4 separate regions of the Homo sapiens genome follow, and regions 2, 3 and 4 are each linked to region 1. The links come from fine-mapping of genetic effects on plasma protein levels. A gene starts in region 1. Each other region holds a variant in brackets. All regions are shown on one strand. Distances are between the middles of the regions. Region 1 holds the start of MMP10 (matrix metallopeptidase 10). Region 2 holds the start of MMP3 (matrix metallopeptidase 3). Region 3 overlaps MMP10 (matrix metallopeptidase 10). Region 4 has its middle 5.4 kb from the start of MMP8.

Evidence for each region. PIP is the posterior inclusion probability: the model's chance that the variant is causal. The UK Biobank Pharma Proteomics Project read protein levels with antibody pairs (Olink). The fine-mapping took linkage between variants from a reference panel, not from the people measured, so its PIPs are less certain.
Region 2: its variant is fine-mapped to the plasma level of the MMP10 protein (UK Biobank, PIP above 0.99).
Region 3: its variant is fine-mapped to the plasma level of the MMP10 protein (UK Biobank, PIP above 0.99).
Region 4: its variant is fine-mapped to the plasma level of the MMP10 protein (UK Biobank, PIP above 0.99).

Annotation. Positions count from the first base shown.
Region 1 is chr11:102,779,896-102,787,612 of GRCh38, reverse strand. MMP10 (matrix metallopeptidase 10) reads left to right here and starts at 6,985. Exons shown (of 10, transcript NM_002425.3): 1 at 6,985-7,126. The coding sequence starts at 7,022. It also overlaps the pseudogene WTAPP1.
Region 2 is chr11:102,837,409-102,843,618 of GRCh38, reverse strand. MMP3 (matrix metallopeptidase 3) reads left to right here and starts at 10. Exons shown (of 10, transcript NM_002422.5): 1 at 10-177; 2 at 703-947; 3 at 1,040-1,188; 4 at 1,340-1,465; 5 at 3,026-3,190; 6 at 3,367-3,511; 7 at 4,376-4,509; 8 at 4,909-5,068. The coding sequence starts at 73. The variant G/A (reference allele first, on the strand shown) is at 1,304.
Region 3 is chr11:102,766,562-102,774,545 of GRCh38, reverse strand. It overlaps MMP10 (matrix metallopeptidase 10), which reads left to right. Exons shown (of 10, transcript NM_002425.3): 8 at 1,540-1,699; 9 at 2,431-2,534; 10 at 3,653-4,044. The coding sequence ends at 3,753. It also overlaps the pseudogene LOC100421658. Among named protein-coding and RNA genes, the nearest start is that of MMP10, 10 kb to the left of the region's middle. The variant T/G (reference allele first, on the strand shown) is at 4,472.
Region 4 is chr11:102,726,342-102,734,325 of GRCh38, reverse strand. No RefSeq gene overlaps it. Among named protein-coding and RNA genes, the nearest start is that of MMP8, 5.4 kb to the right of the region's middle. RefSeq lists silencers at 781-830, 951-1,000. The variant G/T (reference allele first, on the strand shown) is at 4,454.

The DNA.
Region 1 (7,717 bases):
GTATGTACACATGCATACATATATCTCTCCATTTATATACACACATATACTATATATACATATACATATGTATATACAAATCATACTTATCATATGTATGTACAAATAATATAAAACATGCATAATATGTATATGTTATAATATGTATACAAAAATCATAAAAAACATACATATATGTATGTGTGTGTGTATATATATATGTATGTGTATATATGGAGACAGAAATCCTCCTTCAAGGGGACCTAGTCTCTCTCTCTCTCCCTCTCTCTATCTCTCTCTCTCTCTCTCACACACACACACACACACACACATCTTAGTAACTGTGATGCCACTACATACCAAGGATTACATATGTCTTTTAAATTATCCTCATAAAGGTACCTATGGCCATCCACCAGGGTAACCGTGCACTGGGGAAGAAGAGTACTCAGATTTGGCAAGGACAGTTGGATACCAGATCTGAACTGAGCTGGTATCAGAGGTCCCAACATGGTATTAAGGCCTTCCAGTTTAGAAAGGAGGTATATGAGGGAAAGTGATAAATAGGGTTCTGACTCAAGGTCATCTCACAGTGGGCCCAGCGGGCCCACAGACCATCTTGTGGTTGTTCCCTGACTTCTGGAATAAGATCTTTATGGTAGGAAGGGCCAACTAGTAGCCCCTGAAACTGCTCCTCCTAAACTCTGGCCAAAATAGTAAACCAAAAGCAGCAAAAAACCAATGTCACATCCTGGGAGGATTGCACAGACTGGTTACACTATCAGAGTTTTAAAAGCAACAAGGAGGGTAATCCTCTCACAGCCTCACTCAATGAATCCTTGGAGCCCTTGCATAAACCCAATACATCATGACGGTGGCCTTACCTAGTGGGTAACTACCTAGCAGGTAACTTACCTAGTGGGTAATTATCATCACAGCTACTATTTCAGACATGATTTCTTTACTAGAGCAAATTAACACAGCCTCAGAAACATGATACAGAGTGATTCAAGAGGAGTGTTTAGAGATTTCCCCTGCTGTCTTTGAGCCCACAAATGCACTAGAAAGTAGGGGTTTTGCTTGTTTGGGTTTTGTTTGGGTTTTAAACGAGGCTCTAGCCTTCCAGTTTGAATCCTTTTAGAGAATTTAACCCCAAACACCACTCTAAGGGGAAGTAGTAGCTTTTTTCCAGACCTAGCCCATATGTCTTAAAGGGGCAGTGTTCTGGCCAATGAATTGCAGTGCAAAGCTGCAAGATCTGCTCTGCCACTCAACTCTTTGTGATCTTGACCATTCTGAATCTTCGTTTCCTTTCTATGGTAAAGGGAAAATAATACTAACTTCCAGGATTGTCGTAAAGATAGAAGAGGTTAGATCACCTAGCACAGTGCCTGTCATGTTGAAAATATTCAACAAATGATAATTGCCCTTTTCTTTCGCATATTCCCCTACAGCCAGAATTTTTCTTCAGTGCTTCTTTCCTCCTCACTGAGGGTCTTCCCACCAGAAAAGCCCACTGCACCAAGGAATCAACAGAGCAACTAACCTAACACATTGTTACTGTATCTCCTACACATTGGAAATACAGTAACTGCATTCATAGAGCATTATTTTATGTGTTTAGGTATTGTTAAAATAATAATGGCCATTATAGGACACAACATAAAATTATGCTTTCTAATATTCACAACACTGAAGTCATGATTCTGAGGTCCGTCTAACCCCTACTTTGATACTTTGCCTCCTTCCATTGATAGTATTTTCTATAGCAAGCACAAGTGGCCTGCAATATTTGACTAAACTATCAGAATAGAGAAAAGAATGAATATAAATCTAACAATAAACTGTGTTCCCATTGTGAAGCAGTCAAATTGGAACTAAAAGCATGGGAAAGAGATCAACTTTTCACTTGTTATGAGTCTGTGTAAAAACCAGTAATTTCCAACAAAAGAAGAAGTTGCAAAATACTGAAGTCAATGTCATGCCATGGTTGACGCAGGATTATATGTATAAGTGTACAACCTTAAAATCAGAGGTCTTTGGGTATTGAAAATTAATAGCTAACCAGTTTTCCCAAGAATTGAATAAACTGGAAGTGAGAAACCGTTAGGCATTTCTCAGTCTTAGTTACTGAAATTGCAATGGATTGTAGACCTGCATTCTGTCTGGATCACATCAGTGCAGCACAGGCCAAGAGGAACTTCAAGTGACAGAACAGATAAACATAGATCAAATGAAGTAGCTGTGTTAGCAGGATGATCAGAGAGTTGGGAGAAAAGAACAAAAGCTAAGGAGATAAATTGAAGGCATGTTCAGGGGTGAGTTCAAGAATGAGAGATAGGCCAGGCGCGGTGGCTCATGCCTGTAATCCCAGCACTTTGGGAGGCCGAGGCGGGCGGATCATGAGATCAGGAGATCGAGACCATCCTGGCTAACACGGTGAAACCCTGTCTCTACTAAAAATACAGAAAATTAGCTGGGCGTGGTGGCGGGCGCCTGTAGTCCCAGCTACTCGGGAGGCTGAGGCAGGAGAATGGTGTGAACCCAGGAGGCAGAGCTGGCAGTGAGCTGAAATTGCGCCACTGCGCTCCAGCCTGGGAGACAGAGTGAGACTCTGTCTCAAAAAAAAAAAAAAAAAAAGAATGAGAGATAAAGAACAGTGTCAAGACATAAAAGAAAAAAAGCTGGGGAAGAACCAAGGTCCAAGCCAAGAGGTTGTTTTAAAACTTTTGTTATTACTATTATTTTAAATATATTTGGGGGGTACAAGTGCAGTTTTGTCACATGGATATATTGCATAGTGTTGAAGTCTGAGCTTTTAGTGTAACTCTCACTGGAACAGAAGACATTGTGCCCCCATTAGATAATTTCTCATCCCTCTTTTCCCTCCCACCCTCTTGAGTGCCCAGTGTCTATTATTCCACACAGTATATCCATGTGTACACATTATTTAGCTCCCACTTGTAAATCAGAACATGCAGTATTTGACTTTCTGTTTCTAAGTTATTTCACATAACGTAATGACCTCCACTTCCATCCATGTTACTGCTAAAGACATTACGTCATTCTTTTTATGGCTGCATAGTATTCCAAACAGTATGAGGATTTCTCAAAGACCAAAAAAATAGAACTACCATTCAACCCAGCAATCCCACTACTGGATATCCACCCAAAGGAAAAGAAATCATTATGTCAAAAAGATACCTGTACTTGTATGTTAATCGCAGCACTATTCACAATAGCAAAGATATGGAATGAAGCCAAGAAGTTTTTGATAAACATCCAAGTTGTAGTCATGAAGGTTTCTTCTGGCAGTTCTGAATAATCTCTTCCCACTTGTTAGCTTTTGATCGTGAGCTTATTATTCAATTTTTCTAATCTCAACTTTGTTGGGTTGTTCTGAAGTTTAAAAATAACTCACATTTAAGAACTGACTACAGTGGAAGCTCAATACCAGGCGTTTCACCTTTCTTTAAGTATGAGCTCTGTATGCTTCCTTGCCTGACCCTATACATACTTCAGTAGGTTTAACAAGTAATGAATTATATAAAGACAAACATAGGACTCACCTGCTCCAGGGCATTAATTTCTACCAGGTGTCATGGTTTAATGCAGGACAAGTTTAAACACTAACATCATTTCTGTGAGGCATGTGCTACCCTATAGGCTCCCAATTATAGTCGTAGCTATTACTACAATGTAAACTTTCATTGTATCATTACCACATAATAAAATCCATTAACAGGATGTGTCAACACTAATAAAGTTATGACTCAAGCGAAAATGGGCATCTCACAGCTTGTCAAATCAGGGCCTAGGGGCATTGTCACAGATTTGTCAGGCCAACAAGCTTTGTCTGTTAAAGGTGTTGGAGTGAAATAAGAAGAGATTTGTTCCCCAGCATAAAGCATACAAAATAACTTTGTGAGTGTGGTTATATCCACCCCATTTTACAGATGACAAAATAATGGCCTGAATTAATTACACACAGTCATGTGTGACTTAACAATGGGGACACATTCTAAGAAACATGTCCTTAGGCAATTTATCCATTGTGCAAACACCATGGATTAAACTTACACAAACCTCTATGGTACAGCCTACTACATGCCTAGACTATGTGGTATAGCCTTTTAAAAATTTCTTGGGGAAAGTTATCCTCCCATCTCAGCCTTCCAAGTAGCTGAGAGTAGAGGTGTCAGCCACCATGCCCAGCAAGCCTATTACTCCTAGGCTACAAACCTATACAGCATGAAATTCTACTGAATACTGGAGGCAATTGTAACATAATAATAAATATTACTGTATCTACACATATTTTAACATTAAAAAATACAATAAAAAGATGGTATTAAAGATAAAAAATGGTACAACTATATAGGGCACTAACCAGGAATGAAGCTTGCCAGACTGGAAGTTGCTCTAAGTGAGTCAGTGAGTGAGTGGTGAGTGAATCTGTACACTATGTAGACTTTATGAACATTGTATGCCTAGACTACACTAAATTTATAAAAGCATTTTTCTTTCATCAATATAAATTAACCTTAGCTTACTGTAGTAACTTTTTTACTTTATAAACTTTTTAATTTAAAACTTTTTTTGACTCTTTTGTAATAACACTTAGGTTAAACACAAACGTTTCACAGAGGTACAAAAATATTTTTTTCTTGATATCCTTATCCTATAAGCTTTCTACTATCTTTAATTTTTTTTATTTTTTAAACTATTTTTTGAGAATGAAGACACAAAACACGAATTAGCCCAGGCCTACACAGGATCAGGATCATCAATATCACTGTTTTCTACCTTCACATCAAGTTCCACTAGAAGGTCTTTCAGGGCAGTAACGCTGATGCAGCTGTCGTTTCCTATGATAATAATGCCTGCATAGGGCAGTAACCATGGAATGCCTTCTGAAGGACCTGCCTGAAGCAGTTTTACAGTTAACTTTTAAAAAAAAGGTACACTCTAAAATAAATGATAAAATGTATAGTAAATGCATAAACAGTCATTTATCACTATTATCAAGAATTATGTACTGTACACAATTGCATGTGCTAGACTTTCGTATGGCAGCACAGTAGGTTTGCTTACACCAGCATCATCACAAACACATGGGTAATGTATTGTACTATGACATTATGTTGGCTACAATGACAATAGCTGATGGGTGCTTATCAGCTCTGTATTAGTTTGTTCTTGCATTGCTATCAAAAATACCTGAGACTGGGTAACTTATAAAGAAAAGAGATTTAATTGGTTCACGGTTCTGCAGGCTATATGAGAACCATGGTGGCACCTTCTTCTGGGGAGGCCTCAGGAAACTTACAATCATGGCGGAAGGCAAAAGAGGAGCCTGCACTTTACATGGCCAGAGCAGGAGAAGAAAGAGAGGGGCTAGGTGCTACACACTTTTAAACATCCAGATCTCATGATAACTCACTCACTCACTATGACAAGAACATCACCGATGGGATGGTGCTAAATGGGCATGAGAAATCCGCCCCCGTGATCCAATCACCTCCCACCAGGCTTCACCTCCAACACTGGGAATGACAGTTCGACATGAGATTTGGGCAGGGACACAGATCCAAACCATATCAAGCTCCATTATAATCATATGGGACCACCATCATATATGTGGTCCATTGTTGACTGAAACATTATACAGTGCCTGACTGTACTTGCTCAATGTCCAGCTGACTTTATTTGAGTCTAGTTGTCAGTCCTTCTCCCTCTGATATTCAAGCTGATGTCACCACACTGTAGAGCAAACTCTTTGGCAACAGTAAGTCACAAGTTGACTTGGCTGGCTCAGTGTATATCCCAGTTTCTCTCCAACTCTGGCTTGGAAGTCTCAGAGCCTCTTGGTTCCTGGAAGTCTCACCTGTCCAGGCTACCTTAAGTAGGGTGGGGATGGTGGGCGATACTGAAAAGATCATTCCTACACACTTATTATTTTAATCTCTCATCACTTTGCAATTATGTACTTCAGACATGGTAGAGTTAATTTATCTTTAGTGAGAGAAAAATATAGTTCTTTACTATAAGAATTTCAGGGTTCTTTATATTAACAGGTTAATTTGACAAAACAGTTATTGCAGACTTACTGTGTTACTGCGTAAAAAGCACTTTATTTGGCTGAGAAAACAAGAAAGAAAATACTATTTGTGGGCAGGGGTGGATCGTTAGACATGTGAAAGAAAGGGAGGATTTGAAATCATTTCCCATTACAGATCTCAATCCATCTCCTCCTTTGTACCTTAAGAGGAGAAAGAAAGGGGGAAAAGAATTTTTAAAAGCAAAGAAGAGGAAGAGGGTAGGAGGACCATTTCAGTCTAACATGCAATTTAATTTTTTCCATTTAACAAGTTTTATGGAGCAGTTACTTTGAACATAATTATACACTGGGAAATGGAGAATGAGTGAACACCAAAGCTTCTCTCTTTGGATTCTTTTCTCTACATGCTCCATGTCCTTCTCACAATACCCCTACTCCACGGCCAGTAAATCCATCTGAAAATCAATAATAGCTATTGTAAACAAGGACTCAAGAAGTGAAATATTTGTTTTAATATCTTTGTAAATAACAACTCCCACATTTAGACCACGACTATATTTGGAATTTATTTCCGTTGACCTACTTAATTCTTACCTGCTTATATTTAAGTTTAAAACATAATCTTCTTAAAAGAAAATTGCACTGATTTTAAAATGTCAAAACATTTGGCATTTTACCAAGCTTGTCAGCTCTCTTTAAGTAAATACAGAGACGTGAATTATCTAGCCAATTCTTTTTCGTCTTTACAAACACAGAAATCATTTCCTGGGGATTAATCATTCTTTCAAGTTTAGAAAGTTGAAGGAAAATACTGATGTAGGCTGTATCACCATTACATTAAATGTTTGTGAACATTCAGACTTAAAAAACACATGCATGAATCATACTGTTGGTGATCTCAGCATTGTCTCTGTATAAAAGAAAGGCCACTAGGGGGTAGAGCTAGAAGCCCAGTAGACAAAGAAGGTAAGGGCAGTGAGAATGATGCATCTTGCATTCCTTGTGCTGTTGTGTCTGCCAGTCTGCTCTGCCTATCCTCTGAGTGGGGCAGCAAAAGAGGAGGACTCCAACAAGGATCTTGCCCAGGTAATTAACGGTGGCATCTATTGCAGCTACTGGCCAGCTCAATTGTGTCTACTTGGTCTTCCAATACAAAGCAGAATGATTAGACTAGAGATCACTTTGTTAGAAAACTGTAGCATCAGAGAATAATTAACAGGCTGGAGGTGGAAATTATTTTTATGTTAACAGAGAAGAAAAGAAAGGTTCAGAAAGGGAATATAACTGCTCAAGGTTACAATAAAATAGTAGCAGTATATTTGTGGCTAAGTGAAAAGAACATATGGAGAATATATGAAACTCCTCTGGCTTTAGAATTTATTTAGTTAAAATTATTGGGGAGGGGAGCATGCTAAGTTTGATCTTTAAATCATATCAGGTAATAGTTTTCATATTTTTACTTGTCATATTTGGACAAAAGAGTTTACCACACTTCAGTCTTAAACCAGGTCTATAATAACAATGTAAGTAGAAAAGGTTAGTATTCTAACTTTTCACAAAACTATGTTAAAAGAGGGTTTCTTTAAAAACTAACAAAAATAATGCTAGACTTGAATTTTCAATCCCCAATTCCTTACTTGACTAGCAAACTAACATTGCAATAAAATTTAAAAATTT
Region 2 (6,210 bases), 57 kb before region 1:
GTTGGACCTACAAGGAGGCAGGCAAGACAGCAAGGCATAGAGACAACATAGAGCTAAGTAAAGCCAGTGGAAATGAAGAGTCTTCCAATCCTACTGTTGCTGTGCGTGGCAGTTTGCTCAGCCTATCCATTGGATGGAGCTGCAAGGGGTGAGGACACCAGCATGAACCTTGTTCAGGTAATTAACACTAACTGACCTGGCCAGGTGGGGAGCTTCCAGAGTAAGCTGAAACCATTCTGTGTGTCTTAAAACCCACATAGAATGCTTGAGCTTACTGTGTAGGAACAGTTCAAGAATAGAGAGTTATAGAGTGTTGGAAGTGGAAAAGGTCTCATTATCACACCATTTGGGCTTCTCCTCTTATGTAGGAAGAAACAAAGGCCAGAAATATTAGGTGTTTTCTTAAGATCACACAACACCATAGCAGTAGCAGCACTGGGGCTTAAGGCACATGAGTAACAAGTGGAGAGTGGATGAACCATATCTTGCTTTGGAACAGCTTCAGTTTTTTTTTTAATGCAACGTAATTTTAGCTAAATATTTGTGTTGCTAGTATCATATTATAAAATTTGCCATTATTTCAGCAAGCTAGAGAAATACTCCAAATAGATTAAGAAGTGAGCAACTGCAAAAACTTACTATAAATAGATAGCTATAGTAAAAATTGTAAGAGTGACCTAAAAACTATACTTATTCTGTTAGAAATATCTAGAAAACTACTACGACCTCAAAAAAGATGTGAAACAGTTTGTTAGGAGAAAGGACAGTGGTCCTGTTGTTAAAAAAATCCGAGAAATGCAGAAGTTCCTTGGATTGGAGGTGACGGGGAAGCTGGACTCCGACACTCTGGAGGTGATGCGCAAGCCCAGGTGTGGAGTTCCTGATGTTGGTCACTTCAGAACCTTTCCTGGCATCCCGAAGTGGAGGAAAACCCACCTTACATACAGGTAATGGTTCAGAGGGGTTTTCACATAAGATTGGAATTTTATAAACTATATCATAGGAGAAAATAGCATCTGCTTCAATTTTTCTCCTACAGGATTGTGAATTATACACCAGATTTGCCAAAAGATGCTGTTGATTCTGCTGTTGAGAAAGCTCTGAAAGTCTGGGAAGAGGTGACTCCACTCACATTCTCCAGGCTGTATGAAGGAGAGGCTGATATAATGATCTCTTTTGCAGTTAGAGGTAAAAAAAAAAAAAAAAAAAAAAAAGCAAAACAAAACAAAACAAAAAACACATGAAATGTATCCATTCATCTATCTGGTGTTGTTGTACTGGAAAAGGCTCAAAAGGGATCCTT[G/A]TTACATATCTTTCCAATAAATTTTTTTCCTACTAGAACATGGAGACTTTTACCCTTTTGATGGACCTGGAAATGTTTTGGCCCATGCCTATGCCCCTGGGCCAGGGATTAATGGAGATGCCCACTTTGATGATGATGAACAATGGACAAAGGATACAACAGGTTAGTTACACATCTCTCAGAATGATTTTGGCATTAATTTTTTTATATGTAGAAATCTGTTAATAACCAAGAATGCTCAAGAAATGAGATGTTCTGGATTTTCCAGTGGATCAGAGATCAGCAGAATATATTTTTGTTTTAATTATTATTGAAAATATTTTCAGATGCTTTAACAGTTTTCCTATATTGGTAAGCACAATATAGGAAATATCATTAAGTATTTCTTTAATGACTGGATCTTTGTGATCTAGGGGTAACCATTATTAAGAAAAATTTCTCATATCAAAATACAAACATTCAAGGGATAGTATATTGCACTGAATCTACATTAAAATGTGCTCTGGATGTTACTTATGTAATTTCCTCCATTTACTTCTTTACTCTTCAAACCAGAAATAAGAATTAAATTTCAGAAACTGAGATTCTCTTTTTTTTTTTTTTCTGGCTGAGGCATTATTTTAGTACTTTTAGGTTAAAAGAATTTTTATGGGCTTGTTCTGAAGGAAAAGACTAACTCCCAAATACAACGTTCAAACTGTTTAGGTAGAAGAATGTTTCTCAGTTCATAACTGTATGTTTTGGGGAATGACATCCAAAGTTTTCAAAAAAATCAGCTAAAACAATTAACACTACTTCTAAAAAAATAGGAAAACAATTAATACTATGTCTGAGGTTTAACTGGGATTTATAATGAAAATGTAAACCTCTGTAGGACGTACAAATGTGAGTTTAGTCCTGGATAGAATTCTTGATTGGTTGAGTTAACGAATTCTTGTAAAGAAACCTTCCTGCAAACTCTCAAATGAGATTGTTCCTAGCATCACAAGTTACACAAGTAATACTAGCAAAAGTAAGGTAGATTTACTTACTATATTGATCATAATTACCCAATGCCTCCCAATTTTAGCATTATGGGTGTTTTTAAAAATATGAAGGAAAAAATTTTGAATAAAGCCAGTGTTTATGTATTCTAAATCTGTTGTGTGACAAATGCTAGACATGATTGGGCATACTGTGTTTTAAACCAATTTTGCAAATCCTATGACATCTATCATTATTCATGTTTTTAGTCTCAATATGTACTTCATGATGATGAGGCTGAGACATTATCAATTAACATGAATATAGTTTCCTTTAACTGAGACTGCAAATGGCAAATGTAAATATATTAAAACAGTGTTTAGCTTTGCATTGACAAATGAAGGTAAATATCTGATATGCTAAGCAAGTGGGTTCATTCCATTCCTGAGTACAAGAAAAGGGATCTGGTTCTTCTGGAGTTAATATGCTTGTGAGGCTGGGGGTGGGTTTGGGGCCATGGGGGGCAAGTGGATGTAACTGGGAAATCAATCTCAAAGATTGATTACAGGTATGAGTTTTAAAATACACTTAGCTTTCCATTAAGTGTGTAATTAGTCAATTGTTCAATTAACCAACAAACAAGGTGTAAAAAGCCCTGTGTGGTTCCAAGAAGTAAAAACCAATACAATGCACAGCAGACCTGTGTAATGCACATGTATTTAAAAAATAAGTAACTATTGTTCTCAATTTCTTAAATAGGGACCAATTTATTTCTCGTTGCTGCTCATGAAATTGGCCACTCCCTGGGTCTCTTTCACTCAGCCAACACTGAAGCTTTGATGTACCCACTCTATCACTCACTCACAGACCTGACTCGGTTCCGCCTGTCTCAAGATGATATAAATGGCATTCAGTCCCTCTATGGTGAGTGACACTGGGAAAATCAGCCATTGTAGTTTTGCAATGATGGTCTTCAGAAGAGCTTTCAAATGCTACATAAAGTATTTATGATTTAGTTCAAAGCACCGTGAGAATGTTTGGAAAGCATACAAATGGGCATATATTGAAACGTATCACATTTCCCCTAATGTTCCCTTTAGGACCTCCCCCTGACTCCCCTGAGACCCCCCTGGTACCCACGGAACCTGTCCCTCCAGAACCTGGGACGCCAGCCAACTGTGATCCTGCTTTGTCCTTTGATGCTGTCAGCACTCTGAGGGGAGAAATCCTGATCTTTAAAGACAGGTCAGGCTGAAAAATTATATTTTCCTACCATTTTAATCTACAATGTTTAGAAAGGAAAACACGCAGAAACTTGATAGAGATTCTTAGACATTTAAAACAAAAACGTTTCTTCTGAGCTTGGAATCATTTAGATCTGGTGCTGCCTTTTCCCACATTTTCCTAAAATTGTCAGGTTCATTTTTGAAGGCACAGGCTGATCTGGTTCTTAGCTTCTAATTGCTGTTTCCAAATGTCTTAAGTCACAGTTACTTTTCAAAAGGCATGAGTAGATCTTTCGAATAATAATTTTATTTTTACTTCCTTTAAAAATGACATCAGGATCAACATTACATTTAATCAAGTAATTTACTTACTGATGGATCAATATGCACATGACAAACATTCAAAGAGCACAAATGAGAAGCAAATTAAAAATTTTAGTTCCCAGTTCTCCCTGTACTCATCCAGAGTCAAGACTTTTTGTGCATCCTTCCAGAATCTTTCTACACACATACAAGAATATATTTACACAGCACATACACGTATACAAACACGGCCTAGCTTTTGGAAGAGGGTATAGCACACGCACTGTTTTGCATACATTGCAGGTAATTAAAGCTTATGCTGGGCTAATTCATTTGCACGATAGAATAATTTTTCTTTCATAGAAGACATTACTCTGGAAACCTATGACGGGAGACTCACTACAGTCTTCTGAAGAAAAAGGAAAGAAATTTTCTAATGGCAATATACCTGATTTCTATCTGTCATCCAGCCTAGAAGATGAGAGAATGGGGGAAGCTGGGTGAGGCAAGACGGTGAGGAAAATATTCTAAAGGTGAAAGATTGTTTTTCAATTTACATTTCTTTTTACATATATTTTAGGCACTTTTGGCGCAAATCCCTCAGGAAGCTTGAACCTGAATTGCATTTGATCTCTTCATTTTGGCCATCTCTTCCTTCAGGCGTGGATGCCGCATATGAAGTTACTAGCAAGGACCTCGTTTTCATTTTTAAAGGTAATTACTATATCATCATTTGTTTAACTTGCCAAAGTAAACCCTCTCATAAGAAATTGAACAACACTTTAATTTTCCCTACTACAAGTTCTGGCTAATACAGTAGTCAACGGTAATGAAGAAATAACCAGGGCTGATATCATTGTATTTATATTTCATAGATGATAAAAATAAAGACAAGAAGATAAATTACCCAGAGTTGTAAATTCTCTCATTTGACCTTAGTTCATTCATTCAGTCTGCAAATTTTTGTGAAAAGCCCACTGTAAGCTGGTGACTAAATCTAAAATTTGGGCTACTACTTTACCATGAAAATCAAAGATGCTAAAGTGTATTTCTAAAGCGAAAGGGCTTAACTGTTATAATTCAATATGACTCTGAATTATTTATATTTAACAGGAAATCAATTCTGGGCTATCAGAGGAAATGAGGTACGAGCTGGATACCCAAGAGGCATCCACACCCTAGGTTTCCCTCCAACCGTGAGGAAAATCGATGCAGCCATTTCTGATAAGGAAAAGAACAAAACATATTTCTTTGTAGAGGACAAATACTGGAGGTGAGATGCAAGAGAAATGACTTTGTATGGAGCCTAATTAGGGAAATTAGTTTCTTTTACTAAGGAAATCCCCCACCCCAACCTTAGGCCTGCTTCTCTCTTAGTAGGAAGGATGGGACTTCAGACAACTGTGGGAAAGTTCTTACTTTAAAACAGCAGCACCTTAGGCTCTCCTGCTTTCAGTCCCAAGTGCAGTTGGCTGGTGCTTCCCTTGGTGCTGTCACCCCACCTGCCTGGAGCCCCCTCTTCTCTCCTCAACCTATTCAAATCTTGCCCATCCTTCAAGTCCTGGCTCAAGTCTCATCACCTCCATGCAGCTTTCCCTCGTGGACTTTAGACCCATTGGGAAAATGTTCTGAGAACCCAGACCGCAATTTAGCGTTCCCTTCCCATTGTCTTTTAGTTTGGCTCACTGTCTCACTGTGTGTTTGTCACTGTCTCATTGTGTGTTTGTTTTGTCTTCCTAACACTACTATATGATTTTCAAGGGCTACCTCTAACCTCACCCACTTGTCACCTCTACCTGATAATGATGGCTCATTTAAGAGATGATGATCAATAGCAGTCCAGTTTATGGATACAACCCAACACTCACAGACAGGTTGATTCCTGGGTCATTTGGCCAGACTTTGAGACATCGAGGCCGACCATCTGATATCCAGCCAATGGGCTAAAAACACACTTACTGTGCTTTGCTTCTTATCCTAATCCCTTTTCCCAGGAGGCCACCAGAGAAGATTTAGATGTGCAGGGGAGGGGACAGCAGGCATATATGGGCCAATTGTGGTAGGGAATTAAAATTGCATTTTAGATGTTGATTCAATTCACTTTATATATATGTTCACACTTTCATGTCTTTGTGACAGAAAGATGATTAAGGTTCTTTCTGTCCAGGCTTAAGAAATATGATGACAAACAGCATGTGCTACATACAGCAGGATGCGGCCCCTGTTCCGGATGGAGATATGGCTTTCAGAACTCTTTACAGTACCATTAAAGTCACATATTTCTATAGTCCCAAATATGCTTGGCATTTATTTGCAGTATTTATAAAGTTTAGTAAAATTCCACATTAAACCTAACATGATCTAAGATGTTCGGTAACATGGCCTCTATGCAATGCTGAGCTGTTTCTTTTACTT
Region 3 (7,984 bases), 13 kb after region 1:
TAATTTGAATTATTGCTGAAGTTTTGTTTTCTTTTTCATTCTTAATACTGAATCCTTTTGCCTTTCTCTTTTTTCTTCATCAATCTCATAATATATGTAATAATTTTACTGATCTTTTCAAAGGACTGACTTTTGGCTTTATTTACTCTCTATATTATATTTTGATTTCCCGTTTAATTAGTTTCTGTTCATATCTTTATTGTTGCCTTAATTTTTGTTTACTTTGAATTGATCCTGTTATTATTGTTATAGCTTAAGTTTGATACTTACCTTATTAACTTGTAACTTTTTTCTTTTCTAATACAAGCATTTATACCTATAAATAACCATTTCTTCTGTTTCATCCAGCAAATTTCGATATGCAGTATTTTCATTTTGTTCAATTTTAATTCTTTAATTTCTCATTTTTATTTTTTCCCTAGACTCATAGGTGATAATGGAATATTTTTAAATGTCAAGCTTTATGGAGATTTTAAAAATATTTATTTCTGGCAATCTCACTTATGTGAAGATCAAATGAATGTGAAATTGCAGTAGAAATTGTAAAGGATTACATAACTCTAACGTATTGTTATCAAGTAATGTATCTCACATTTACATATCACTTGCACTGTGTCAGACGCCATTCTCATTGGTGGAGGTCAGGACTGAAAAGGGCTCATATTCTAGAAGGGGCAGCAGAGATGAAGCCTTTGGCAGCCTACATATGACAAGTGCTGGGACTGAGAGAAGGAAGGGTGCCATGGGAGCACCTGACTCATACCCAGGACTCAGCAAAGATCCCTTAGGGGAGGTGATGTTAGGATGGGTCTTAAAGTTCTCTATTGTTGTGCAGAGATGGGCTGGGTGTACAGAAAGTAGAAAGGTCTTTAAGAAAGAAGAAATTGTTTTTACCAAGTAAGAGCATATCTGGAACTGCTCAGACAGATACAAGTCATTCGGTTCAGACGAAGCAAGAGAGATAAACAACAGATGGACATTTTAGATTAGTGAATCTGGCAGTGAGTGCGAAGAAGGAATTCAGGCTTGGGGTCTGGGAGAGTGATGTAACAAAGTAAATGCAGAGAGATTGATGGGATTTTATTGTCCTAACTCACTAGAATTTGAATGAATTCCGATAGTGTTCACAAGAAGCACAGATTGGAATTGGTGACTGTGAAATATCTCAAAGGAAGTGTCCAATAAGCAACTGATCTATTGGTATGAAACTTAAGAGAGAGAGGTCTAGGTGAGAAATTCAGGTTAAAAGTTTACCAACAATTATAAGAAATAACTAAAACTGATCTATAAATAAACTATAACATATAGATACAAATATATAAGACACAGAAAGGGCAGTGAATCAGAGTTATCTACTCATTTATTCATTCATTCATTCACTCGCTCATTCAGGGAGTATTTATTAAGGACTGGCTGTGAACTGGACATTATTAGGTTGGAATTAAAACCAAGCCTTCCTCTTTACCACAACAATGCACTATAATTATTTTTAAAATCAATGGCTTCAAGTAAAATGTCTTGGATTTATTTTTTCAATAGGAAATGAGTTCTGGGCCATCAGAGGAAATGAGGTACAAGCAGGTTATCCAAGAGGCATCCATACCCTGGGTTTTCCTCCAACCATAAGGAAAATTGATGCAGCTGTTTCTGACAAGGAAAAGAAGAAAACATACTTCTTTGCAGCGGACAAATACTGGAGGTGAGATGCAAGAGAAATGACTTTCTATGAAGCCTGATTAAGAAAATTATTTTCTTTCTTTAAGGATATTTCCCTACCCTACACCCACCCTCTAACTTTCTCTAACTTCAAAATTTATGATTATGAGGAAGACAGCTTATTGTTCTACCTTCCGGATACAAAGGCCTCTCAGAATGGTGATCACTGGGCCATATACTCAGACACTAAAAGACATCAGGAGAGGCCAGCTGAGGTCCAAAGGCATTCACCTCTTATTCCATTTCCAGTCACCATGTGGCTGCCATAGGAAGCCCAGGTGTGGCAGGCTTTGGAGACAGGATCTACAGGGTCCCAGTGTGACTGAGAACCAGAGGTTTATTTTTAGCTAAGTGATTTAATTAATTTTGCATTATGAATTCATTATGTCTACACAGTCTTTATGTATTTATAGTAGACACAGGGAAATTTGGTTTCTGTGTGTCCAGGCTTAGAAAATTTACCTCAGACATATGTATGGAACCTCTGTAAAATGGCATAATGTTCCTGTTTCTGGAAAATATTGTTTTATGTGTTAAACTTGTAAGCCCAGGAAAGTAACCTATTCTTGTAGCTCTAAAAATGTTTAACACTTTTTTACACAACTTAAAAAGTTTGTCTAGGATTCCACACTGGAAAATTAACATCACATTATACTATTGTGTGTAATGGGACTACTGCACATCATTGAACTGTATTTCTTTCATTTGGTTTAGATTTGATGAAAATAGCCAGTCCATGGAGCAAGGCTTCCCTAGACTAATAGCTGATGACTTTCCAGGAGTTGAGCCTAAGGTTGATGCTGTATTACAGGCATTTGGTAAGAAGACCCTTATTTCATTGTCATGCAGGAATCTCCAGGCATTTTTATGATTTCAAAATAAAGTGCAGAATCAAAACAGTTTTTAAATCATTCAGTCTGATATCTTTTTTACTCCAAATTCCTGAAAATCTTAACTTTCCAATTTATGCAAAGTGGGTTTAAATTTGTGTGTGTGTGTGTGTGTGTGTGTGTGTGTTTTCCTGAATAACTTCCTAGTCTCTGTTTCATATCCGCACATAAAATCAAAGGATACTTCCTCACACAGAAGCCATTATCTTTCAGGTCACTATGTTGGTATAAAAATACAATCTGTGTGAGCCAGGCTTACTGATGGCTGGTTGTCATTCTACTCTATCCCATCCTGTTGTCCCTTTTCTTCTATCCCACCCCAGGGGAGCCTTGTCTGGGCTTCTGTTGCAGTCTGCGATTGCCTGCATTAGTCATTTGTAAATAAAATACTAGTCCTCCCATATGCTCAAAATAGGTCAAATGTGATTCCTGGTAATGGGCAAATAGGAAAGCAAAACTTGTTCTTGATTACTCTGAAGGAATTTTGGAGGGAGCTGCCAGTGCTTGACAATCCAATGGTCATGAGGCTGATGATCTTGTTACTAAAATGACTTAACCATGATGGATGCAAAGCAGGAAATGGACCTCTGGCTCATTTATCATTTGTCTGATTCTCTTGGGTCTAGTTGTCTCCCAAACTGTAATTTAGAACCTAGCAGAAGAGGGGAGGTTGGAAAGAAAGTAAAACAAGGTTTTAAAATATTATAGAATTTTATCTCTTTAGAACCAGTATGACGTAATGTTTTAGAGCACTTCCTTTGGAGTCAGATGAGATGGAGTCCTCCCTCCTTCCTTCCTTACAGATGCTACCTTGTTAAAATTACAAAACCGTCTTAATTTTTAGTTTTGTTCTCATTAATAACACATCACAGTTTTTTGTAAGGGTAATTGAGATAAAGCATGTAAAGCACTTAGCTCAGTGCTTGGCATAGAGTAATCACTTAATAAATGCCCTCCATTATTAACTTGTACTTAATCTAAGTTATATGTGTTGCAAAATGACATATTTGAAGATGTCTCATCATTTTCCTTATCTATATTTACAGGATTTTTCTACTTCTTCAGTGGATCATCACAGTTTGAGTTTGACCCCAATGCCAGGATGGTGACACACATATTAAAGAGTAACAGCTGGTTACATTGCTAGGCGAGATAGGGGGAAGACAGATATGGGTGTTTTTAATAAATCTAATAATTATTCATCTAATGTATTATGAGCCAAAATGGTTAATTTTTCCTGCATGTTCTGTGACTGAAGAAGATGAGCCTTGCAGATATCTGCATGTGTCATGAAGAATGTTTCTGGAATTCTTCACTTGCTTTTGAATTGCACTGAACAGAATTAAGAAATACTCATGTGCAATAGGTGAGAGAATGTATTTTCATAGATGTGTTATTACTTCCTCAATAAAAAGTTTTATTTTGGGCCTGTTCCTTACTTTCTAGAACAATTCATGTTCAATACCCTGATCATACTGGGGACTGATTATTTGACAGATAGTCTGCCAGTAGGTGTGGTAGGAACACACACTCTATAAATTAGTCATGTGGCTGTCACATACCCTCTCCTATTCTCTGCACCAACAGGATCTTTCTTTTCATCTCACAGATATTGTAAGTGTTCCTTACACACCTAACAAAGAAAGAGGTAAATCAACAGTTGTCCTGTATCTAGGCAGGATCAAAACAAAATGGAGAAATGGAACTCTAGAATGTTAGAGCCTGGGAACCTGCATATTATTTAATAGACTTTCCAATTTTACAGGTGGGGAAATAAAACTAGTTTGGAGTCCACTCACCTCTTGTTTTAACCCAAATCTTTCTTCAGTGGGATTCCTTTCTTGCTCTAGAGACTAAATTTCTCA[T/G]CTCCCCCTCACCCTCACCCTCCTGTTAGAATACTCTCTTGCTACCATTTTGTACATGGAAACCCCTGAGTGATAACAGTGCATGTGCACATGCCAATTTTGTGACAGATTTACCATCACGAAGTTACATGCTTACACCATACTGACAACACTATAGAAACTTGTTCCTTCTTTTATTGACTAATTTTAATGCCAGACTTTGTCATAGTTGCAAAGTATGAAACAGTGAAGAAAATACATTTAACTCAATTTCATTGAGTTTTGTCTGGTGAGAGAAAGAAATCAAATGAAAGAACATAAATTAATGTATAACTACAAATTATAAAGCTGTTATTAGAGAAACGACAAAGCTGTAAAGAAGAGTACTGTTGGAGGAAGGGTTATCTGTTAAAGTTTGGTTATTAGAGAAAGTCTCTCTGGGAAAATAATGTTAAAAACAAAGCATCTAAATCCAAATGGCCAGGTGGGTGAATGGGTAGGAGGATTTAGACTACTCTAAGGAAAGAAAATGCAAATTAGTGTTGAGGCCCAGTGGGTTTAAAAAAATAAAAGTCCTTGGCATGTTCAAGGAACTGAAAGATGAGTGCCTATTGGCATGTTGGAGAGTAGGGGTGGAATAAGATATTAGACAGGTAGACACAATCAAATCATCCAATGTCTTTACAGTATACTAAAGAGTTGTATTTCACTTTTAGTGCATTGTAGATTCATCGAGTGAGTCTTAAACAGATAAGTTATGCCAGCCATTATATTTTTGAATGATTACTTTAGCTGGAGAGAGTTGGAAGGAAGTGACGACAAAAGTTGGAACAGGTTAAAAATGACAGGGAAGGGTGGTAGGGACAGGGGACCTCTGGGTAGATTGAGAGACATGACTGGATTTTTTTTATTTTTATTTTTATTTTATTTTTGGCCCTGTCACCCAGGCTGGAGTGCAGTGGTGCAACAACCACAGCTCACTGAAGCCTTGATCTCCCGGGCTTAGGAAATCCTCCCACCTCAGCCTCCTGAGTAGCTGGGACTGCAGGTGTGCACCACCACTCCCAACTAATTTTTGTACTTTTGGTAGAGACAGGCTTTTGCCATGTTGCCCAGGATGATTGGGAACTCCAGGGCTCAAGCAATCCATCTACCTCAACCTCCCAATGTGCTGGGACTACAGGTTGAGCCACCATACCCAGCCCTGATATATATTTCAACATCATTCAGATTTCATGATAAACTAGATAGAGTTCTGAGAAAAAAGGAAGGTATTAAGAATAATTCCTAGATTACCGGCTTGAACAAATTCTTGGATCACAGCAGCTTCAACAGAGTCAGGGGAAGGCTGAAAGAGAAGCAGTTTTGTGGGAGAAAGTTAAGATTCAGTAGGAATCACCTCACCTTTTAAATATAGAAATTCTTGTAAGTTAACCAACTAAAGGCATTAGTAGGCCATTAGATGGAGGAATCTGGAGCTCAAAACAAAGTAGATAAAACTGTGGGTGTTTGGCGGCATCAGTCAAGCCATGGGAATAGGTAAGTTTATATGGGAAGATTGCAGAGATAAAAGAAGATGGTTCAGGACTGAACCTTGTAAAATGCAGTATCACTCAGACCAGGCCAGGATATGCTGTGGTAATGAGCACTTCCCGATTTTCAGTGGCTTAGAACTAAAAGTGCATCGTAGTACTCCACTGGGGTCTCTACTCCAAGTTGTCCTCACTTCAAGACCCGGGCTGATGGAACGGGCACCACGTTGAACGCCAGCCTTCACTGCGGCGGAGGGAAAGAGTTATTGGTAAATTTCGCGCTGACTCCTAGAAGTCTGTGTGGATACAATAAACATCATTCTGCCCATACTTCATTGGCCAAAGAAAATTACATTGCCTCATCTGACACTAAAGATAGTCAAATAATATACTGTCACACGCCTAGGAGGAGAATCAGAAATATTTAATAGAGAACACTAATCATAAACACAAAGGGCTTCCTCACAAAAACAAAAAAAAAGTAACATGTGTACCCGGGTTGCCGCCGAGGCTCGCGCCTGCGCAGTGAGCATCCCGCCCTTCGGCTGCTGGGAGCCTCCCAGAGCCCAGGAGCGGCAGGGACCAGACGCTGGCTTTGGGGCTGCCCAACAGCCCAGCGGCTAACGACACCCGCGACGGGGGACAGGTTGATTTGGTTAAACAACTCCACTACCCATTGATTTTCTCAAAGATATTTTGCGAAGACGTCCAGGAGGACAGATTCTTAAGGCCTTTTTAATGGACATTTGGAACAGGCAGAGGCAGACACTGCCTTCTAGATGCGGTTTTAAAGCAGCTACGGTGAATGATGGGGTCAGATCTCCGGGTGTACAACACGGTTTTCAGCCCGGACGACTGGCGCGGCATTCAGAAATGGCAAGAAGTAAGACAAAGTATGAGCCTTTGAAGGTTGGAAGATTTGGAATTGAGTTTAAGTCTGGCTACCATAGAGATGTTCCTTGTATCTTTAGTGGTGACTGGATTGGGATGTTCGAGCCTCATCAAACACTTTTTGGCCCACATGAGTGAGACCAGTGTTGGAATGTCAAAGATGACAGCATTTAAATTCGTGAACTTTTGGACCAATTTCTGCCATTTGCTGGCATTTTTGGAAGCACCAAGGAAACATTCATAAATCTCAATTTTCCAGAAACATTTTTTCCTTTTCCTTTTCGCCTGCATCCTCGACAGCTTAGTAGTAAACACTACAGTAAGCAGAAGGTTCTCCAGCTCTCCGTCTTTTAGGGCAGATGTAGACCCAGTGCTGCTCTTTCTAAAAAGTGTGCAGGACGTCTCCTTATAATGTCCGAGAGGCTGGTGGAATGGAGAAACCGGTATTTAGAGTGACTTCAAGGGCACTCTATTTAGACGGCACTGAAACGTGAACGTCTGAATTCTATAAAGATCCTGGGAACTGCACTAAGTAACAATTGTGAAAGGACTCCAAGCAATGGCATCAACTGTATAACATACCATGCTGGTATTAGAGCCTCTCTTCAGTGAGTTGTCCCAGATTGCAGGGATTTATGCAGTTAGCCATGATTGGGTCAGTTTTAGAAGACAAGAGTACTGAAGATGTACAAAAGCCATCTTGGTTGGTGTGTAATGGTGTGGGTGGCCAAGGGATTTGCAGTAATCTTCAGTCTTTAGTGGATGGATTGAAATTTGTCCCAATCATTGGAATAGCCATGTCTTTGTCAAGCAAAGATGGTGAAGCAAAAGGAGCAATGTCAGATGTCTCAGGAATAGCATTTTGTTTTCTTTACTGCAGGGTGGGGAAAGCAGAACAGGCCTCCCAGTTCACATCAGTGGGTTCTTTGGCCTCACCGACAACATCAGGAACATAAAATAAAGAGATGTGGGCAAGTGGAGAGACCTGGCAGCTTTCTGGAGTGAATTTGTTTTCATGACTGTTGTCCCTAAAGTTCATGCTACTTTGATCTTAGATTCACCAAAACTTCTGGAGTTTTGTTACAGAAAAAAAAAGTAACATTCCTATATT
Region 4 (7,984 bases), 53 kb after region 1:
AACAGAGAAAGTGTCTGCAACATATGAAACTAAGGAAAGATTAATAGGTGGTTCAGAGAAGAAATTCTTTTAAATCAACATGAAAAAGGTAAGAAATCCAGTAGAAATGCAGGCATGGAAATAAGTTGGCTATTATTAGAAGGGGAAATCTGGGTAGCTGACAGCATATAAAGAGATATCCAATCTTACTAGTAATCAACGGAATACCAATGTAAAAAAGATACCTACTTATACCTACCAAAAATGGCAGAAATTAGAAGTTCTGGTTATATTAAGTGCTGATAAAAACATGGGGAATATGAACCCTTATTTACAGCGGGCAGAACTGTTAATTGGTGCAACCATTGTGAAGCAAAATCTGGCTGTATCATAAGAATACCTGTATTCTAACCCCAGTAGTCCCACTTGTAAGTATTCATTCTGACTGTGATCCCCAGGAGACTTGTAGGGCAGCCAATACAGAACTATTTGTGAGAGCGGGAAGCTAGCCACCGCCTGGATGGCCATTGTTGGTGAACTGACACTTAGAATGTGATAGCCCTTATCAAGTAAGCTAAAACTGCCACCCACAACCTGGCATTAAGATCTGTTAACAGAGGACAAAATAATGTGCTTAGGAACATTGTGACCACTGTGGAGTTTCTCATTCTGCATTCTCACCTAAAGCAAACTATTCATTTTAATGAGCTTTGGCCAAGTCTTTAATGTCCAGTTCTCCCACTAACCTACCTAGTTCAAAACCTGGGCTCATCCTTACTAAATGAGATAAATGGGATCTATTTGTTTTACATTCTTATTTCGAAGAAGACTGTTGATCTGACCGAACAGTTCACCCTCCGAATACCCCAGTGGACTTTGGCGCCCTCTGCTGGTTTTACAGGGGGCATGATGACCACTAGCATGGCTAAGAGTGACAGGTCTCAGCCATCCGTGACTTCATTGAAGGCCACTGGTTGCGTCTGCTATACACCAGCTTACTCTGGGAGCATTAAGCCATAGAAAAATATCTGGATGGAGACATTTCAAAATGTTAACATTGGTTACCTCTAGAAGAGGGGACTGAAGTAGGGGGAAAGGGGGTTAGAAAACTTCACATTTACTTACCGTACTTCTGAAAGTTTGGAATTTTTTTTTTAATAAGCATGTATTTTTGTATTACTAGACTATTTAAAAATAAGTGATTTTTAAAATAAAATAAATCGTTTGAACAACACTTTCTATATTGCTTTTCGTGCATTACCTCCTTAAAGCCCACGGCTTTGAAATAAGAACGTAAAACAATATAGCAATATAGAAAGTGCTCCTATCCTGTGAGGCTTTTTTTTATATTTAATTGCCAGAGAACTGTAATTTTTATCTGTTATTTTGCACTCTGTGTTAAACATTTTCTACACATCCATATTTAATCTTCACAACATTCCTATGATGTCAGGGCTATTGTTACCACCATTTTACACGCAAGGAATTAAAACTTAGGGATGTGAAGTGAACTGTGTCTAGGGTCCCACAGTAATAAGTGGCCAATTAGGGATGTGCAATTAAGACAGAGAGATGAAGGAACTTGTGCAAGGTCAAGCAAATGATAGAGTGGAGTCAAACCCAGGTCTTCGGATTTCCATTCCCCATGCTAAAGAGAAACAGGCTGTCTGTGAGTACCTCGGGCTTGTCACTTCAGGTTCCTCTGATGTTTGGTCCTGATGTATGAGGCAACCACATCTGTAGAATTTGGAGGAAGAAAGAGTCAGAAAGTTCCCATAATGACCTTAATGTGACATTTAAACTAAAGAAGCTACTCAGGCAGAAGGTCAACTCCAGTAGAAGACTTTGTGGAGACTGAACAGAAAGAGCCTTGGAATTAAACCAAACTTGGATTCCCAAATTCTGCCACACATTACACATCTGCCAGTGTGTGATCTCAGGTAATTCACTTAACCTTTCTGATCCTCAGTTTCTGTATTGCTTTTAAAAGACGTAATACCTAAGAAATTTACATAAAAGTGACTTTGCAAAAGCCTTTATGACAGTACCTCACTTCTAATGAGTATTCAGTAAATACTCACATATTCTTGGCATGGAAAGTCAAAATGGAGAACAGGGTGGGTGCAGGTTATCCTGGAGTTATAGGGCATGGTCTCCTAAAGGGCTTTTCAAATCACATGCAGACCACAGATCCTGAAGTGCCCTTCCCTGTGCAGTCAGTCTACACATTTACTGACTACCTCCATCTCTTCTCATTGAGAATTATTGCCTGTAACAGAAAGATCAATGGTCCCAAAAATGCCCACATCCTGACCCGTGAACATGTTAGCTTACATGGCAAAAGAGGTTTCACAGGTGTGATTTGGGTTAAGGACCTTGAAATGGGAGATTAGCATTATCTCAGTGGGTCCAATCAAATCACCTGAGTCCTCACAAGTGGAGACCCTCCCCCAACTGTGATCAGGGAGAGACAAGAAGATGGAATAAGGGTTAGAGAGAAGTGATATTGCTGGTTTTGAAGATGGCAGAGGTGGAAATACAGGCCAAGGGATGCAATAGCCTCTAGAAGCTGGAAACAACACAGAAACTGATTCTCCTCTATAGCTCCCAGAAGGAACACAGCACTGCTAACATATTGATTTTAGCCCAGTGAGACCCATACCAGACTTCTGACCTGCAGAATCGTAAGGCAATGAATTTATCTTGTTTTGAGCCATTGGACGTGTGGTTATATGTTACAGCAGCTGCGGAAAACTAATCCACTGCCCCTGACAAGCCAATGTCACCAAAGGGCATATGTGGTGTCTTTCTGATATTTTAGGTTAAAAAATAAATTCAGGTTGAGAACCATTGATCAAGAGGAGTGAGAACAGAATCTAGTGGGGACTATATAGATGTGAGACAGTTTATTGAGATGAATTCTCACAGACTCCAACAGGCGTATGTGGGTGACAGCTGGTTGGGCTCCAAGGGGGATGGGAGCCAGATGTGTGGTGTGAGGAGCAGGTGTGTGATGTGAGGAGGAGCAGGTGTGTGGTGTGAGGATTGGGTGTGTGGTGTGAGGAGGAGCAGGTGTGTGGTGTGAGGAGTGGGTGTGTGGTGTGAGGAGGAGCAGGTGTGTGGTGTGAGGAGTGGGTGCGTGGTGTGAAGAGGAGCAGGTGTGCGGTGTGAGGAGTGGGTGCGTGGTGTGAGGAGCGGGTGTGTGGTGTGAGGAGTGGGTGTGTGGTGTGAGGAGGAGCAGGTGTGTGGTGTGAGGAGTGGGTGTGTGGTGTGAGGAGAAGCAGGTGTGTGGTGTGAGAAAGAGCCGGTGTGTGGTGTGAGAAGGAGCGGGTTTGTGGTGTGAGGAGCGGTTGTGTGGTGTGAGGAGTGGATGTGTGGTGTGAGGAGGAGCGGGTGTGTGGTGTGAGGAGTGAGTGGTGTGAGGAGTGGGTGTGTGGTGTGAAGAGGAGCAGGTGTGTGGTGTGAGGATTGGGTGTGTAGTGTGAGGAAGAGCAGGTGTGTGGTGTGAGGATTGGGTGTGTAGTGTGAGGAAGAGCAGGTGTGTGGTGTGAGTAGTAGGTGTGTGGTGTGAGGAGGAGCGGGTGTGTGGTTTGAAGGAGTAGAGGCACTGACTGGGCTTCCAAGAAGTTTGACAGTGAGGGAAAGGAAACAGGATGGTAACTCAAGTGATTAATAGGGTAGAAAGAAGTCTGTTGTTTGGTTTTATTTTGTTTTACTAGAGAAACCATGTAGGCAAACAGGAAGCAGCCAGTGAGGGAAAGGAAATAGCGGGGGAATGTGTAAGGAGAATAGTTCTGGTGTGGAGATACAGAAAGAGTCCCATGGACACACTAAGAAATTGAATATTTTGGTGGTAAAAATGAGAGAAAACGAGGGCATTTACTTAAAGTGGGAAGTAATACCTTGCTATAGCTAGACATTGTTAGAAAATCAAGAATGGAGAAGATTTAGAAAAGACAGTGCCTCAGGAAAAATGAAAAATGAGGCATTCCAGCCACACAGCTGGATTGATTTAGTAGAAAAGAGAGTTTTGGCAAAATCCACTTCGCAGTTTCCTGCCTCTACATACACAGAGCGGCCTGGAATGGAAATGTTTACTTTTCTGCCATCTGTTCTCGTGGGTCTGTCAAACTAGTTTCTGGACAGTCGTTGACTCTCAATGGGTCATTTTCTCCATTCTTTCTTATCCTCAACACCCTCTAGTTGGGAGGACAATAGATACAGGGGCAGAAATGGAAATGTTTGGGGCTAATCAAAACCATAAGGATAAGATCCTCCATGCTCACTCTAGCTACTCTCTCACTTGCCTGGACCATGGCGGCTGCTCAGCAGGCCTTTTAATCAGCCTCATCTGTGGGTTGAATTCACTACCACGGCTTCTCTAAGTCTCCACTTCCTTCAGCTCCAGCCTTAGCCTTGATTCCATCTGTCATCCTCAAGAGAACTCTTTGACTCTCAAGACAACTCTGTTTTT[G/T]TTTTTTTTGTTTTTTTTTTTTTTGAGACAGAGTTTCGCTCTTGTCGCCCAGGCTGGAGTGCAATGGCACGATCTCGGCTCACCACAACCTCTGCCTCCCGGGTTCCAGCAATTCTCCTGACTCAGCCTCCCAAGTAACTGGGATTACATGCACGTGCCACCATGCCCAGCTTATTTTGTATTTTCAGTAGAGACGAGGTTCCTCCATGTTGGTCAGGCTGGTCTCGAACTCCCAGCCTCCGGTGATCTGCCTGCCTCAGCCTCCCAAAGTGCTGGGATTGCAGACGTGAGCCACCGCACCCGGCCTTAAGGCAACTTTTATTTTATCTGTGTGTATCTGTGATGCGAATTGCTGCTCCTTGGAGATGTGTGGTGTGATGACCCAGGTTCCCTCCTGTCTTCTTCAACCTCATTTCTTCACCATCCATCCCCACACCAAGAGTAAGACCCATGACCACCCGCTAGGGCCAGGTCCTCACGACCTTTCACTTAAACTCTTACTCCACCTTTTAATTGTTCTTCTTATTTATAACCTCTCTTCAGTCCAGTCTATCCTAGATACTATGGCCCGGTTAGTTTTATTAAGTCAGCATAGATTGTTACATGGCTCAGAAACAAACAATGTCTGCTCATTGCTGGCCTTTTGATGTTTAATTCCTGCCCCTCCACTATCTGGTTCTAGCCTACCATTCCAAGCTGCTTCTCTTTATATGCTCTATGCTGATTCCCCCAGACCCTTGTTATTCTTCACTTACAATCCAAGATTTCTTACCACAATACCTTTGCTTTTTGCTTCTAATCCCACCCTCATTTAACTTAATTTCAATGCCAAAATTCAATCCACCTTTCAAAGTTTATCTCAGTGTCCACTTCCCCTACAAAGACTTTGTGGATCTCCCCAATAGAATATGATTTTTCCTTTTTTAAAATCTTAAAACATGACTCTTTACTTCTCTTATTGTATATTCTCCATCCTCTCTTACAATAGAGATTCTCAACTCATCCTCATTGTTACCTGGGATGCTTTCTAAACTTGTGTATACCTGGGCCCCACCCCAGAGATTCTGATTCAGTAGCTGGAGTGGAGCTCAGTCCATTCTGGCTGCCAAATAAGATATCATAGACTGAGTGGCTTATAAACAACAGAAATACATTATTTCTCACAGTTCTGGAGGACGGAAGTCAGATCAGCCTGCTAACATGGTTAGGTTCTGGTGAGGGCCCTCTTCTGGGCTGCAGACTGCCAACTTTTCATTGGATCCTCACTTGGTGGAAAGACAGAAAGAGAGTTCTCTGGGGTCTCTTTTATAAGGGCACTAATCCCACTCATGAGGCCTCACCTCCTTAAGGCCCCACCTCCTAATACCGTCACACTGGGAGTTAGGATTTCAACATGTAAATTTGGGGTTGGGGGACACAACATTTAGTTCATAAAAGAAGCCTACTTGTATGTTTAATATAGATTCTGATGTAGTGCCAAGACTGAGAATAATCACTTTTAAAAATTTTTTCCTCATTGAGAGAACAAAGGAGATTTTAGGAAGAGTCAATGAAAAGGTAAATTTGAATCATATCTCTGAATCTGTTTTCTTCTTTAAAATGGGGATAATAACTCCCACTTCTCTGGGTTGTTATGAAGCTTAAGGAAGGTAATAGATGCTGCATATCTAAGACTTAGCACAGTGATTAATCCATAATGACTTGTGAGATCTGAGTGTATACATTTATACTCTGTGCAAAGGATGTGAGTCACACACATATGTTCCCTGGCTGAACTTGAACACTGGCTACTAAAGGAAGCTCCATGGAAGTTACTTCACTTGGTGGCTTAACTTAGAAGCACTTCTCTTTCTGGAAAAGAAGAAATTTTCAGCATTTCTAACTCATTCACAGAACGGACGCATGAACTAATGTGGCTATAATTTCACCACATTCATAATACAAAGAGAACAGCACAGTGAAGGGTTTACACAGACTTTTTCCATGTATGATCTCATCTAATACCCTTGATGCCCTATGAGGGAGATGTTAATGCACTAGTTTCACAGGTGTGGAAATTGAACCTCAGAAGAACTTAGATTTGCCAAAAGTTGCATAAGTGGGAAGTGGCAGGACTGTAATTTGAACCCAGTAAGTTTAATTTCCACCCAAATGCTCTTTACCTTTCACCACAACTGGCCCTAACAATTGTTCTGTTAACTTGATCAGGGTATATGGACATCCATTCTGATCATGAGAGTTCAGAAAGGCATGAAGCTGAGGACATTTTGCCTTGGCTTATGTGAATCAAATGAGCCACGGCTTCACTGGGTATAATTCTGTGCTTAGCGGACGCTGTTCCTTCTACTGGATCACATTCCCCATTGGCAACTCCTACTCATCATTCAAGATTCAGGCACATGTGCTCACCCCAGCTGGTTCAACTCATCCTTTATTTTATAACTAAAAAACAAATAGACTATATCTATGCAATCTGTGTCATCTCCTCGGGCCTAGAAAGCAAAACTGAACTATAAAAATACACCTGCTATGTTGCTGTAGAACCCACATCTATATCCTTATCCTTATAAGAATATCCTTATCCTTATGAGAATAGGCTGCTGCCGAAGGGGCAGGAGGGAGGCTAGTAATAGAGAGGCAGAAAGAGCCTACATTGCCTTGTGAGTTTTCTGGGCAAACTAAATTTCTTTCTTCTTCTTAACTTGCCCTGAAACTCATGTTATAATGAACAATACCTTCATTTTTAAAACTTTGTTGGCTTGTTTGTTTTTTCTAGCAAGATATCTACTCAACAGGCGAACAACTCCTGTTCGCACTGAAGTGTAAATGACTGATTTGATTTTTGGGGGAGAGAGCCTGAGAGAACTCAGTCCCAGGGACCAGAAGCAGGTGAGGCACAGACACCACGGAGGTAGACAGTGGTCAGGTGTGGAGAAAGGATTCAGAAGGCACAAGCTGGAGCCCTGAAAGCAAATGCAGTATAGCCTTCTCCACCACTGCACCAGGGCTGGGCCTGTTGGGGGAATCCAGACCCAACCGTTCAATTTTTTAACATAGCATTTACCCAAACACCAAAAACTAAGTTTACCGAAGTTTTAGATTCTCAACTAAATCACTTGCTGTTATGTTCAGAAGAAAGTACATTTATAAACCTTGTAAGCAAGCCATTGCATCAAAATAACTCAACATAGAGTTAGACCAATGTTAAGGCATTTTCGTGGAGGAAAAAGCATTTTTTCACCAAAGACCTAATGTAAAGAAAGCCACATTAAGCCATGAACTCAAGGAGGATGAACATGACCGTGATCTTTGAACAATTTGGCAGGAAGCTGTCACATTTATATTAATACAAAGAATGGGTTGCTACATCTCTGCATGTCTACATTCTACCTCTTCATGATCCGGTTCAAATTCCACCTCCCTCATGAAACCTTCCTTGATTTCACTCCCTCCACACCACTGCTGTTTCCTCCAAACACCCACAGCATTTTATCCAAACCTCTATTAATTTATCTCCAATACTCTAGCACC